2 separate regions of the Homo sapiens genome follow, and region 2 is reported to be linked to region 1. Evidence: microRNA targets listed by miRTarBase, many of them from high-throughput screens and not tested one by one. Region 1 holds a microRNA gene; the other region holds the end of a gene's coding sequence.
Evidence for each region. The annotated mature microRNA hsa-miR-559 reads UAAAGUAAAUAUGCACCAAAA and lies in region 1 at 4,970-4,990, shown strand. An mRNA with a match to its seed (bases 2 to 7 or 8) in the 3' UTR can be bound and repressed. Matches are read on the target gene's strand: a 7mer-m8 pairs with bases 2 to 8, a 7mer-A1 pairs with bases 2 to 7 and ends in A, and an 8mer does both.

Region 2: the mRNA of SEM1 is a reported target of hsa-miR-559. The part of its 3' UTR that is shown has no 7-base or 8-base seed match.

The regions. Positions count from the first base shown.
Region 1 is chr2:47,372,721-47,379,840 of GRCh38, forward strand. MIR559 (microRNA 559) reads left to right here and starts at 4,955; the gene lies at 4,955-5,050. EPCAM (epithelial cell adhesion molecule) reads left to right here. Exons shown (of 9, transcript NM_002354.3): 2 at 743-850; 3 at 1,088-1,328; 4 at 2,514-2,579; 5 at 4,294-4,357; 6 at 6,233-6,334; 7 at 7,049-7,120.
Region 2 is chr7:96,682,520-96,689,639 of GRCh38, reverse strand. It overlaps SEM1 (SEM1 26S proteasome subunit), which reads left to right. Exons shown (of 3, transcript NM_006304.2): 3 at 674-878. The coding sequence ends at 716. Among named protein-coding and RNA genes, the nearest start is that of SEM1, 24 kb to the left of the region's middle.

The DNA of each region.
Region 1 (7,120 bases):
GCGATTGTACCACTGCAATCCAGCCTGCACGACAGAGTGAGACTCTGTCTCAAGAAGAAAAACAAAAAAAGGCAGTGACTAACAGGGATGTTACTTAGCAGGACAGGACTGTGGAAGGAGCTAAGACTGGGAGTTTCACAAAGACAAAGCTAGAAATGATACTTGGAGAGCTGTGTTCTTGTTTTAAAAAAATTGTAACAGGAGGCCAGGCACAGTGGCTCATGCCTGTAATCCCAGCACTTTGGGAGGCTGAGGCAGGAGGATTGCTTGAGGCCAGGAGTTCAAAACCAGCCTGGGCAACATGGCGAAACCCCGTATCTACAAAAAGTTAAAAATTAGCCAGGCATGGTGGTGCATGGCTGTAGTCCCAGCTACTTGGGAGGCTGAGACAGGAGGATCACTTGAGCCCTGTAGGTCCATGCTGCAGTAAACCAAGATTGTGCCACTGCATTCCAGCCTGGGCCACAGAGTGAGACCCTATCTTTAAAAAAAAAAAAAAAAAAAAAAAAAAAAAACAGGAATGCATGCAGATTAAACTATGTGTCTGTATACAGTATGCAAACTTTAGCAAGTGCCAGGCACTTAGGCAGTAGTCTATAGCTGAAAAATAAAACATTCAGAACCACTTTTTAAGGTTTTGTGTCCTTGTAACTTTAGGCATTATTATTACAATATAACTTAGCTGGGACATGAGAGTTAATAGATCCACATTTTAAAGTAGATTTTTTTTTTAATTTTCTAGAATGTGTCTGTGAAAACTACAAGCTGGCCGTAAACTGCTTTGTGAATAATAATCGTCAATGCCAGTGTACTTCAGTTGGTGCACAAAATACTGTCATTTGCTCAAAGCGTGAGTAAAATATCCTAATTACCTGTAAGCTTTATTTTGACTTAATACTTCTTTAATTGATGTGCCTTGAGTTGGAAAGAGTTTTATTGGCTTAAATCTGAATCATGTTACAAAGTAAGTGTGGGAACACATAAATTTCAAATAATCTTTGACCCTGGAACTTTAGAGTTAATTTTTTTTTTCCCGTAATCATGAAATCAGTTATTTTTCAGTTTGGCATTAAGGTTTCTTTTTCAGTGGCTGCCAAATGTTTGGTGATGAAGGCAGAAATGAATGGCTCAAAACTTGGGAGAAGAGCAAAACCTGAAGGGGCCCTCCAGAACAATGATGGGCTTTATGATCCTGACTGCGATGAGAGCGGGCTCTTTAAGGCCAAGCAGTGCAACGGCACCTCCATGTGCTGGTGTGTGAACACTGCTGGGGTCAGAAGAACAGACAAGGACACTGAAATAACCTGCTCTGAGCGAGTGAGAACCTAGTGAGTGGGGCTGCCTATACTACTTGTTTTCATGCTGTTCAGATTCATTTAATTAAATTTATTTTTGATTATGTAATATGATTTCATGGTTTAGAATTCAGAAGATATGAGTGTCCAGTGAAAAGCTTCCTTCTCATTCCAGTCCCCCTCGCTACCCATTGGACCTCCACAGAATTGATGTTATTGATTATTCTATAACCTTCCAGAGATAGTTGATGAATTTGTTATATATCTGTTTTATTATTTTTACATAAATGATAGCATACTAGGTATAATTTTTCTTTTATATCTTTACTTAACATTATTCAGTATTTCATTGTTGCATTAGTAGTAAATGTATGTAATTTAACCTATGTATTTGCTTATTGATTGTGTTTTAAAAGTGAGATATGCTTGTTTTAGGGATTGTTTAATGAAAAGGCACAGAAACCCACTCAAGCTAGCTTAAGCAAAAAAAGACTTCATTGGAAGGGACTAGAAACTGGAAAGGATGTCAGGACCAAAGTGGGCACTTTGTTTTTCTGTTCTGGTCTTCTGGAGCCTCGTTGTCAGTTTTCTCTTTGTGCCCTTTCTTTTGTTTTTTCTTTTTTCTTTTCTTTTCTTTTTTTTTCGAGATGGAATTTCCACTCTTGTTGCCCAGGTTGGAGTGCAGTGGCACAATCTCAGCTCACTGCAACCTCTGCCTCCCGGGTTCAAGCAACTCTCCTGCCTTAGCCTCCTGAGTAGCTGGGACTACAGCTATACCACACCTGACTAATTTTTGTATTTTAGTAGAGATGGGGTTTCACCATGTTGGCCAGGCTGGTCTCCAACTCCTGACCTCAGGCAATCCACCCACCTCCACCTCCCAAAGTGTTGGATTACAGTTGTGAGCCACCATGCCCGGGCCTTTCATGCCTTTTCATCTTTTTAGTTGAACAGGGCATGACACTGCCAGCTAAACTTTGACTTAATGTGACTTTATGTATTGTGTCCAGAGAACAGAGGGTCAATATTAGAAAAGGTGTTCCCTCCTGGGTGTGTCCTTTATGAAGGATGTGTAAGGGAAGAAATTATAGGAATAGCTACTGCATAAATTTTTTTTCTCTTAGTCCTTATAATTCGAGAATTTTAGGATTAGCTTATTAGGAAAATAGTATGGAAGACTGAGTTATAGTCAACTGACATTGTCTTTTTACTTTATAGCTGGATCATCATTGAACTAAAACACAAAGCAAGAGAAAAACCTTATGATAGTAAAAGTTTGCGGACGTAAGTGCAATTAAATGCATCATATTCTTGCACAGTTGGTGGCTCAAATCTTCCATCCTACACCATTAGAAAAAGCAAGTCTAAATGCTTTTTTATATTTCTGAAAAATAAAGTTACTTGAAATAGAGTTGCAAGAATAGCACAGAGATTCTGGGAATACACTTCACTCAGATTCACCAATTAACATTTTGGCACATTTGCTTTTTATATGTGTATGTGTGGATGAATATGTGTGTGTGCTTTACATCAGTGTATCTATGCATGTATAAATATTTTTCCCAGAAGCACATGAGAGCAAGTTGTAGACATCAGGCCCCTTTACCCCTAAGTACTTCAGTGTATGTTTTCCTAAGAACAAAAGGCATTCTTTTATATAAACCACTATACAACGATCAAATTTAGGAAAAATTTTTTTTTTTTTTTTTAGACGGAGTCTCGCTCTGTCACCCAGGCTGGCGTGCAGTGGCGTGATCTCAGCTCACTGCAACCTGCGCCTGCCGGTTTCAAGCGATTCTCCTGCCTCAGCCTTCCAAGTAGCTGGGACTACAGGTGCCTGCCACTACGCCCTGCTAATTTTTGTAGTTTTAGTAGAAACAGGGTTTCACCATATTGGCCAGGCTGGTCTCGAACTCCTGAACTTGTGATCCTCCCGCCTCTGCCTCCCAAAGTGCTGCAATTACAGGTGTGAGCTTCCGCGCCCGGCCAGGAAATTTAACGTTATATCACGTTGTGCCCATTTTCCCAATATTGTCCTTTGTAGTAATTTTTCCCCTCTGATTCAGGACCCAGTCCAAGATCCATGTATCACATTTAGTTGTCATGACTCTTTAGTCTCTTAATATCGAACAGTTTCTTGGCCTTTCTTTGTCTTCCATGAACTTGCTATTTTTAAAGAGCATGGGCAAGTCATTATATATAATGTCCCTCAAATTTTGATTTGTCTGATATTTCCTCCTTTTTTTTTTTTTTTTTTGAGTTGGAGTTTTCCCTTTTGTTGCCCAGGCTGGAGTGCAATGGTGCAATCACGGCTCACCGCAACCTCTGCTTCCCGGATTCAAGCGATTCTCCTGCCTCAGCCTCCTGAGTAGCTGGGATTACAGGCGTGCGCCACCATGCCTGGCTAATTTTTTTTGTATTTTTAGTAGACACGGGGTTTCTCCACGTTGGTCAGGCTGGTCTCGAACTCCCAACCTCAGGTGATCTGCCCACCTCAGCATCCCAAAGTGCTGGGATTACAGGCATGAGCCACCTCACCCGAGCCTTGATGTTCCCTCTTAACTAAAAGCAGGTTATGCATTTTTGACAGGAAAACTACTTAAGCGATCTTGTGTCCTTTATAATACTTCACATTAGGAGTTGCATGATGTCAGCTTGTCCCTTTACTAGTAAAGTAAACTTTGGTTAAAGTGGTATCCACCAGGTTTTTCCACTGTGAAGTTACCATTCTCCCTTTGTAATCCATAAATAATCTATGGGCAGATACTTGGATACTAAGTAAATGTTCTTTTTCTAATTAAACTGGTACCCAGCAGTTTGAATATCAATGGATGATTCCAGCCTGAATCAATTATTATTATGATAGTTGCAAAATGGCAGAAAAATTTTAACTTTAATGACAGTTTTAGACCCTGAGCTGTCTGCTTAAAGAGTAGTGCTTCTTACTGTTGTGTGGTACAAACATTTTTTTTTAATACAGATTTTAAATTCTTTACAGTGCACTTCAGAAGGAGATCACAACGCGTTATCAACTGGATCCAAAATTTATCACGAGTATTTTGGTATGATTTTTTAATAAGTGAGCTTTAGCAGACAGTTGGTGAGACAGTATGTTTTGAGTATAAGGACAGCCAGTGATTTAAGTGGTGGTTAAATGCACTTACTGGAGCAACAGTTTCGGATCTGGGTACTTAATGTGAATTTCCTGTTACTGTTTTTTTTTGTTTGTTTGTTTCTTTAAGACAGACTATTGCTCTCTTCCCCAGGCTGGAGTGTCATGGCAAGATCTCGGCTCAATGTAACCTCTGCTTCCAAGGTTCAAGCAATTCTCATGCCTCAGCCTCCCGAGGAGCTGGGACTACAGGCACATGTCACCATGCCCAGCTAATTTTTGTATTTTTAGTGTCGGCGGGGTTTTGCTATGTTGGCCAGGCTGGTCTCGAACTCCTGGCCTCAAGTGATCTGTCTGCCTCAGCCTCTCAAAGTGTTGGGATTACAGGTGTGAGCCACCACGCCCGGCCCATTGTTTTTGGTTATCGTTGTTTTCCTTCCATAGCCTTTGAAAAGCCTAGTTTTACTCCTAAAGAAAACGTAGTATCTCTTAGTATCCCTAAAACATTTGAGTTTTCTTATCCTGGAGAACCTGTCCCTGTGGATGAGCTCCAGTAACATCTTAAAGTAAATATGCACCAAAATTACTTTTGGTAAATACAGTTTTGGTGCATATTTACTTTAGGATGTTACTGGAGCTCCCATCTTCTCTGCTTTAAGGAACTAGTCCTTAACTAGTTAGCCCTTACTTAACTCTTTAAACTCTGGTTTAAAAAATAAAAAGAAGCTTGAATAGTGTGACGGAACTCTTTAAAGGTAGTATGAATTTATTCAAGAGTCTTTAGAAAGAATGTACTTTTTTTACTCTTTAAAAACAAAATGATGGCCGGGCACGGTGGCTCACGCCTGTAATCCCAGCACTTTGGGAGGCCGAGGCAGGTGGATCACAAGATCAGGAGATCGAGACCATCGTGGCTAACACAGTGAAACCCTGTCTCTACTAAAAACATACAAAATAGCCGAATGTGGTGGTGGGCACCTGTAGTCCCAGCTACTCGGGAGGCTTGAGGCAGGAGTATGGCGTGAACCTGAGAGGCGGAGCTTGCAGTCAGCTGAGATTGTGCCACTGCACTCCAGCCTGGGCGACACAGCAAGACTCCGTCTCAAAAACAAAACAAAAAAACAACATGGAAAATGCATGCTGCGTTTTACCTTGCATTTCTTTTTCTTTTCTTTTTTTTTTTTTTTTTTTGAGACGGAGTTTCGCTCTTGTTGCCCAGGCTGGAGTGCAATGGCGCCATCTCGGCTCACCACGACTTTTGCCTCCCAGGTTCAAGCGATTCTCCTGCCTCAGCTTCCCTGGTAGCTGGGATTACAGGCAATGTGTCACCACGCCTGGCTAATTTTGTATTTTTAGTAGAGATGGGGTTTCTCCATGTTGGTCAGGCTGGTCTTGAACTCCGGACCTCAGGTGATCCGCCCACCTCAGCCTCCCAAAGTGCTGGGATTACAGGCATGAGCCACTGCACCCGGCCTTACCTTTCATTTCTTTAGTAATTTAGTTTTAAAGTAGTTCTAATCCAAATAAAATACTTTCATATCTTATTTAAAAATCTTTTCAATATAAGAAAATCCTCTTAGGAAAAATTGTACATTGTAATTATGTTTGGTTGCATGGCTGTCTTATTTCCCTTTGATAGATTTAGAGACCTCCCAAAGATTTCTTGATTAGTGATAAACTTAGTTATCCACTAATGGAAAGGAACAGTGATGCATGTAGATTATAGAAAATCAAACACTGAATATTCTGATTCTCAATTAATGTTATTTTCAAATGATTTTGATTATATTAGTATTAATTTGTATTATTCAATTTTTTTCCCCAGTATGAGAATAATGTTATCACTATTGATCTGGTTCAAAATTCTTCTCAAAAAACTCAGAATGATGTGGACATAGCTGATGTGGCTTATTATTTTGAAAAAGATGTGAGTATCATCTTCTTTATTCCTGTGTTCAGGAATGTAGTCTATCATGCCTCAATGAATTAAATATATTTCATCACCTTTTTATCCACTTACAGATCAACCAAATGGTTCGCTGCTGCCGTTAATTTTGTCCTCCCTGTCACTCACATGCATCTTGCTTGTTTGTATATTTATGCCTCTTATCAAATTGTTCTGCCTAAAATATCTCCCCTCTTTCTTATAATTCTTATTTATTATCTACTTGGTGGTTACTTAGTTTGTGCATATATGCTCCCCTATGATATTTATAATTTACACAAATAAAAGTCTGTTAAAAAAGACTGTAACTGATATGATTAAAATATTTTGTTGAAACTTTAATATATTATAGTGAGGTATTTTCTGCTGAAATATGAGGTTTGCTTCAAAATAATCTGGGCGGGGGTGAAAGGATGAAAGGAAGAAAAGATGAAGTAAGAGAGGCTATGTGTTGTTGGCCTTGCATCTGGGTGATAGGTACATGGGCATCATTGCACTACTCTTTCTACTTTCGTGTATGTTGAAAGGTTCCTGTAATAAACAGTTTTTTAAAGTTCCAATAAATTAGATTGTTATCACTAAAACCATAAAGATTCTTGGCAGCGGTTCTTTTGGCATACAATTTGTATGTAATTATATGTGGCCATGGTTGGTTTCCTTAAATATTTTTAATTCCTTTTCTCCTTTTCAATACAGGTTAAAGGTGAATCCTTGTTTCATTCTAAGAAAATGGACCTGACAGTAAATGGGGAACAACTGGATCTGGAT
Region 2 (7,120 bases), not on the chromosome of region 1:
TTGCATTGGAATAGTGTAGTGGTGTCTAAGCCAAATTTACTTGAGAACAAATGTCTATCTTATTGGATGTAATGATGTAAAGCATATTAATCATACTTTAAGTTTACTCAGTGTTTTATCATGGATTAGCCATCTACTAATTTTGTCATAAACTTTGAATTGTGGCAAATAAGGTTAGAGCAATACATATATGTCAATATGGAAAGCAATCTGTTTATTCTTTCTGCATATACAACAGTAATATAGTAATACCTGTTATGATCATTGTAAAATCCCTAAAGGTTTGATAGTGATGTGTACTTTGCCTGAGGTTAATGAGTCTCAAAACTTATGTTTAAATATTTATTAGGAACAGAACATTCATATAGCATTTGGAAAGTATTTGAAGGATAGCAGTAAGTCCCTCACATTTCTTCCACAAATAGACTTATAAGAAAATTAAGGAAGATAAAATACAAGTTAAATAATGGGAAAAACAAAATTTTATAGTATTATATTGACTCATATCCAATTTTCTTATGTTTTTTTTTCAGAGACAAAAGTAAAACTATTCAGTGGTATTGTAAATTGATGTCTCAGGCATAGCTCATTTATTTGTTTATTTATTGTATTGTTTCTAAAAGAATGTTTATTATAAAGAATACCTAGTGATGTTCTTTCTGTTTTATCTTAGAGCTGAACTAGAGAAACATGGTTATAAGATGGAGACTTCATAGCATCCAGAAGAAGTGTTGAAGTAACCTAAACTTGACCTGCTTAATACATTCTAGGGCAGAGAACCCAGGATGGGACACTAAAAAAATGTGTTTATTTCATTATCTGCTTGGATTTATTTGTGTTTTTGTAACACAAAAAATAAATGTTTTGATATAATCTTGGTTTGGTTCAGAAGTCTTAATCTTTTGCTTCTAATCAATTTTCTTGTCATGATTTTCCAAAACCTTATTATATATAGATAGTAAAATTTCATATTATGAAATTTTCTTTTTTTTTTTTAATGTTAACTGAGTGAGGCTCAGGTTAAATGATCTGGAGTAGATTTCACCTGATTCCCAATTCAGTACTTTTCTTAAACCACATCAATTAATTGTTACTTCTATTTTATAAGGAATTTCTTTTACATCACATTGAACCTTAATCTCTTCTGTATTTTGATAGCTTAGGCAACATTTGCTGACATTTATAAGGTGACCTTTCAAAACCTGTGTTTTAAAAATATTAATCATTTTAAATTGCTGTAATTTACTTAGTTCCTGAGCCATTAATAATATTATTAATGGTTGTTAGCGTATTATTGGTACTTAAAGTCCAAAGTAGTTTAATCACAGTAAGAATGGTGTCTTCTATTAAAATTGAGGAAGTGGGCTCAAGATACTTTATCAACAAGTGCATATTTTCAGGTACTACATAGCAGGCTCATTTAGTACAACTGAGTTTTCACAGAGTGATAGCTGTTGCCACATCACTTTTGTGAATGGGAGATTTAATTTGGTTTGTAAAGGATTCTTTGTGATGACTTAAATGTACGGGGTATTTTTTAGGAATATTTTCAAATGTAAATGTTGTTACTAAGAACTACAATCAATCTGTAGTGTTGAGTAATTTCAAATGTAAAATTTATGTAACAATGCAGTGCAGATACCAAAATAGGGGTTGGTGGCCTGAAATACAAGTTATACTTCAAAATGATTTTGAGCATAAATATGTTTCTGTTTTTAAGACAAGCATAAACCTACCTTGCCTGCCTAACGGAACTGCTAGATGATCAAATGGAATAAGGAACACCAAAGAACTTTGGAAAGTATAAAAGTTTTGAATGGATAAGTGATACTTTTTTTCTTTTTTTTTAAATTATTATTATACTTTAAGTTTTAGGGTACATGTGCACAATGTGCAGGTTAGTTACATATGTATACATGTGCCATGCTGGTGTGCTGCACCCATTAACTCGTCATTTAGCATTAGGTATATCTCTTAATGCTATCCCTCCCCCCTCTCCCCACCCCACAACAGTCCCCAGAGTGTGATGTTCCCCTTCCTGTGTCCATGTGTTCTCATTGTTCAATTCCCATCTATGAGTGAGAACATGCGGTGTTTGGTTTTTTGTCCTTGCGATAGTTTACTGAGAATGATGATTTCCAATTTCATCCATGTCCCTACAAAGGACATGAACTCATCATTTTTTATGGCTGCATAGTATTCCATGGTGTATATGTGCCACGTTTTCTTAATCCAGTCTATCGCTGGACATTTGGGTTGGTTCCAAGTCTTTGCTATTGTGAATAGTGCTGCAATAAACATACGTGTGCATGTGTCTTTATAGCAGCATAATTTATAGTCCTTTGGGTCTATACCCAGTAATGGGATGGCTGGGTCAAATGGTATTTCTAGTTCTAGATCCCTGAGGAATCGCCACACTGACTTCCACAATGGTTGAACTAGTTTACCGTCCCACCAACAGTGTAAAAGTGTTCCTGTTTCTCCACATCCTCTCCAGCACCTGTTGTTTCCTGACTTTTTAATGATTGCCATTCTAACTGGTGTGAGATGGTATCTCATTGTGGTTTTGATTTGCGTTTTTCTGATGGCTAGTGATGATGAGCATTTTTTCGTGTGTCTTTTGGCTGCATAAATGTCTTCTTTTGAGAAGTGTCTGTTCATATCCTTCACCCACTTTTTGATGGGGTTTGTTTTTTTCTTGTAAATTTGTTTGAGTTCATTGTAGATTCTGGATATTAGCCCTTTGTCAGATGAGTAGGTTGCAAAAATTTTCTCCCATTCTGTAGGTTGCCTGTTCACTGTGATGGTAGTTTGTTTTGCTGTGCAGAAGCTCTTTAGTTTAATTAGATCCCATTTGTCAATTTTGGCTTTTGTTGCCATTGCTTTTGGTGTTTTAGACATGAAGTCCTTGCCCATGCCTATGTCCTGAATGTTAATGCCTAGGTTTTCTTCTAGGGTTTTTATGGTTTTAGGTCTAATATTTAAGTCTTTAATCCATCTTGAATTAATTTTTGTATAAGGTAAGTGATATTTTTATAAATATAATGAAGCACAGGCAGCTATGTTGATGTTGTAACATGCTAAGAAGTATTTTGATGTGCATTTTCTCAATATTTTGGTCTGTGGTTACAGGATGTGGTCACCCTAACAGTGTCAGATTACTGACAGTATTAAGTGATGGCCTGAATGATGGCCACTTAATGTGATGATTTTAAATTATTGAGGTATAATTTTGAAACCTCATAGGAGTTGAGCAGAGGCTTTAATGGGTTATTTGTAGTTATCCAGTGTTTTGTCCTTAATTAAATATCAAAATTTAGGTAGTAGTTGTTAAGGATTGGGTACCCGAAAATTGGTATTTGACATCAGGATGATAAAAACACATCTGAAGTAGGAAAGGAGATTAGTCAGGCAGATGAAAAAAATTATTATTTGAAATTTTACAATTTGTAGATTTCTCTCATTTGACCTTCACAGTGACCCACCCTGTGAAGCAGGGAGGAGAGGCCTGTTTATTGTAAACAATTTTGTCAAATAGAAAACAGTCTCAGAGTAAGTTAGGAAGTAAAAGGGCCCAGGATTGCAACAGCTAATAGGTGGCATATACAGAGCTAGAATCTAGGTTTCCGGACTCTTGGGTTTCTTGCAGATATTTTGGAAAGTGCATGAGTTCTGATGTTACTTCAAGGTTTGACTCATAATTAGACCACTTATTAGTTGTGTGTTAAGTTTCAGAACAGCCTATTAACAGTTTTCCTGTTCTATAAAATGGAAAGAATCCCTGCAGGGCTGAGCTGAAGATTAGCATGTGATAATATAGTGGTGGTAATCAATCAATTTTTTTTTTTTTTTTTTTACTGAGCCATGCTACCACTTATATGGGAGTTGCCTTACCTCCCCTTAATAACTGATGCTTACTATGTACCAGACGTTGTTCTCAGCTATTTATATGTGTTAATCTTCACAACAACCCTGAGATAGGTAATGTTATCATGTACATTTCATATATGAAGAAAAGCACCAAGATGCTGAATAATTTGCCCATAGTCACTCAGGAAGTGGTTCCAAACAAAACGAAACAAAAAACGTCTTCAATGGAAGGGACTATTCTGCACAACTTAGGGTTTCTCTTTCAACAGCACTTAATATAGTCTTACATAAATGCTCCTTAAATTTTAGTTGAGTAGCTACACAGAAAAAATGAAGTTTGCTGCAAATTTACTCCATGGTAGAAGTTTTTATTGATACAGACATAAATGTTTCTGTTAGCAATGACTCCCTTTTTTCCCCTATAATTTTTCATAATTATTTTCCAAAATTCAGTTCTGTTTGAAATGAAATTGTAGATGTAATAATGGTCAGCATTTTTCATTAGGCCTTGGCATAGAATTGCTGTAGGGGATGGCATGTCCATCCTATTCCCACTAAAAGTTTAGAGGACTATCATAATGAGCCAAGTCCCTTTTGAAAGATTGAATGTTATATTAATAATGCTTTCTACAGCATGTTGTCGTCTGCACTGTATATTTTTAAACATTTATATCCTTCCTGTTCCACACTTCCCATTTTGAGAGAGGTAACACATCCCACCCACTTGGCAGAGAGCTGACAATTAGCACCACCCTCATTCCACCCATACACATGATGCTGGGGGACTGGCCTTGGATTTTCCAGCTACCTTAATGGCTCCTATTGCACTCTGCCTTTAAGTGTCCTGAGTTTACTTCTTGCTGTATCCATATGTTCTCTTTAGTAATCTCACCAGTGTCAGTTGCTTTTAAACCAATTCCACATGTATGATTCCAAATCTCCTGTTTTGACCTCTCCCTGAAACTCTAATCTCATATATTCAACTAACAACTTGATTACCTCTCCATGTCTGAGTTAAAATTAACTTGATGAGAAGAGAACCCTTCATTATCCTTCTCAAACCTGATCTTTCCTCCAGTCTTCCCCACCTCAGTAAATAGACCCACATTCAACCCAATTGTTTAAGCCAAAAATATAGAAACTTATTGAATCTTCTGTTCTCCCAATATCCAATCCATTGGTGAGCCCTATCAACTCTGCCTCAAATGCATATTTCATGTAGTTAGTACAGTGCTTGCCTTTTCCATTCTTCCCTTCCCCTTTCCTAATGAATCCTCATCTCCCCTGCCTCCCCCGCCCCCCAAACGGTTAGATATCCATCTTTCTTTCACATGGGCCAAGCCTTCTTTCACAAGGCAAGCCAACACCATTCCCAGCTCAGGGTGGGGTGTGTTTCATCTTAAGCCAATCTTAGTAATCCCGTGCCCCGTACAAGTGATTGGATACAAGGATGGACAGCTTTAAATAAATTTGGGGCAATGAATCAAAAGTGGGGCTAGAAGCATCTGGCAGAGAAAAATCCTGCTTCATAAAATAGCACACAAAGCCAGCCTTTCCCTCCAAATATAAATAAGGGAGCATGTAGTCTCAATTGCTAGTGACAGTCATATAACAACTATTGCAGTTTGAGGGTGAAGATTAGAAAGTCTGGAAGAGGATTCTTTGATGATGTCATTGAACTTGCTCTAGGACAAGGCCTCCTGTAAAACAAGCCTACAAACGTCCTTATTTTTAATTTTTTTTAATTATACTTTAAGTTCTGAGTTACATGTGCAGAATGTGCAAGTTTGTTACATAGGTATACATGTGCCATTGTGGTTTGCTGACCCATCAACCCATCATCTACATTAGGTATTTCTCCTAATGCTATCCCTCCCCTAGTCCGCCACCCCCTGACAGACTCCAGTGTGTGATCTCCTCCCTGTGTCCATGTATTCTCACTGTTCAACTTCCACTTATGAGTGAAAACATGCGGTGTTTGGTTTTCTGTTCTTGTGTTAGTTTGCTGAGAATGATGGTTTCCAGCTTCCTCCATGTCCCTGCAGAGGACATAAACTCATCCTTTTTATGGCTGCATAGTATTCCATGGTGTATATGTGCCACATTTTCTTTATCCAGTCTATCATTGATGGCCATTTGGGTTGGTTCCAAGTCTTTGCTGTTGTGAACAGTGCTGCAATAAACATACGTGTGCATGTGGCTTTATAGAATGATTTATAATCCTTTGGGTATATACCCAGTAATGGGATTGCTGGGCCAAATGGTATTTCTGGTTCTAGATCCTTGAGGAATCGCCACACTGACTTCCACAATGGTTGAACTAATTTACAGTCCCACCAACAGTGTAAAAGTGTTCCTATTTCTCCACATCCTCTCTGGCATCTGTTGTTTCCTGACTTTTTAGTGATCATCATTCAAACTGGCATGAGATGGTATCTCACTGTGGTTTTGATTTACATTTCTCTAATGACTAGTGATGATGAGCTTTTTTTAAATATGTTTGTTGGCTGTATAAATGTCTTCTTCTGAGAAGTGTCTGTTCATATCATTCACCCACTTTTCTAGTATTTCTAGTTCTATATCCTTGTTTCAAGTATTTCTAGTTCTATATCCTTGAGGAATCGCCACACTGTCTTCCACAATGTTTGAACTAATTTACATTCCCACCAACAGTGTAAAAGCGTTCCTATTTCTACATCCTCTCCAGCATCTGTTGTTTCCTGACTTTTTAATGATCGCCATTCTAACTGGCATGAGGTGGTATCTCATTGTGGTTTTGATTTGCATTTCTCTAATGACCAGTGATAAAGAGCACTTTTTCATATGTTTGTTGGCTGCATAAATGTCTTCTTTTGAGAAGTATTTGTTCATATCCTTTGCCCACTTCTTGATGGGGCTGTTTGTTTTTTTCTTGTAAATTTGTTTAAGTTCTTTGTAGAGTCTGGATATTTTATCTATCCAAAGATAGACAAAGGATACAATGTATCCTTTGTCAGATGGACAGATTGCAAACATTTTCTCCCATTCTGTAGGTTACCTGTTCACTCTGATGATAGTTTCTTTTGCTGTGCAGAAGCTCTTTGGTTTGATTAGATCCCATTTGTCAGTTCTGGCTTTTGTTGCCATTTCTTTGGTGTTTTAGTCATGAAGCCTTTGTTCATGCCTGTGTCCTGAATGTTATCGCCTAGGTTTTCTTTTAGGGTTTTTATGGTTTTACGTCTCAAAATAGTAAGAGCTATTTATGACAAAC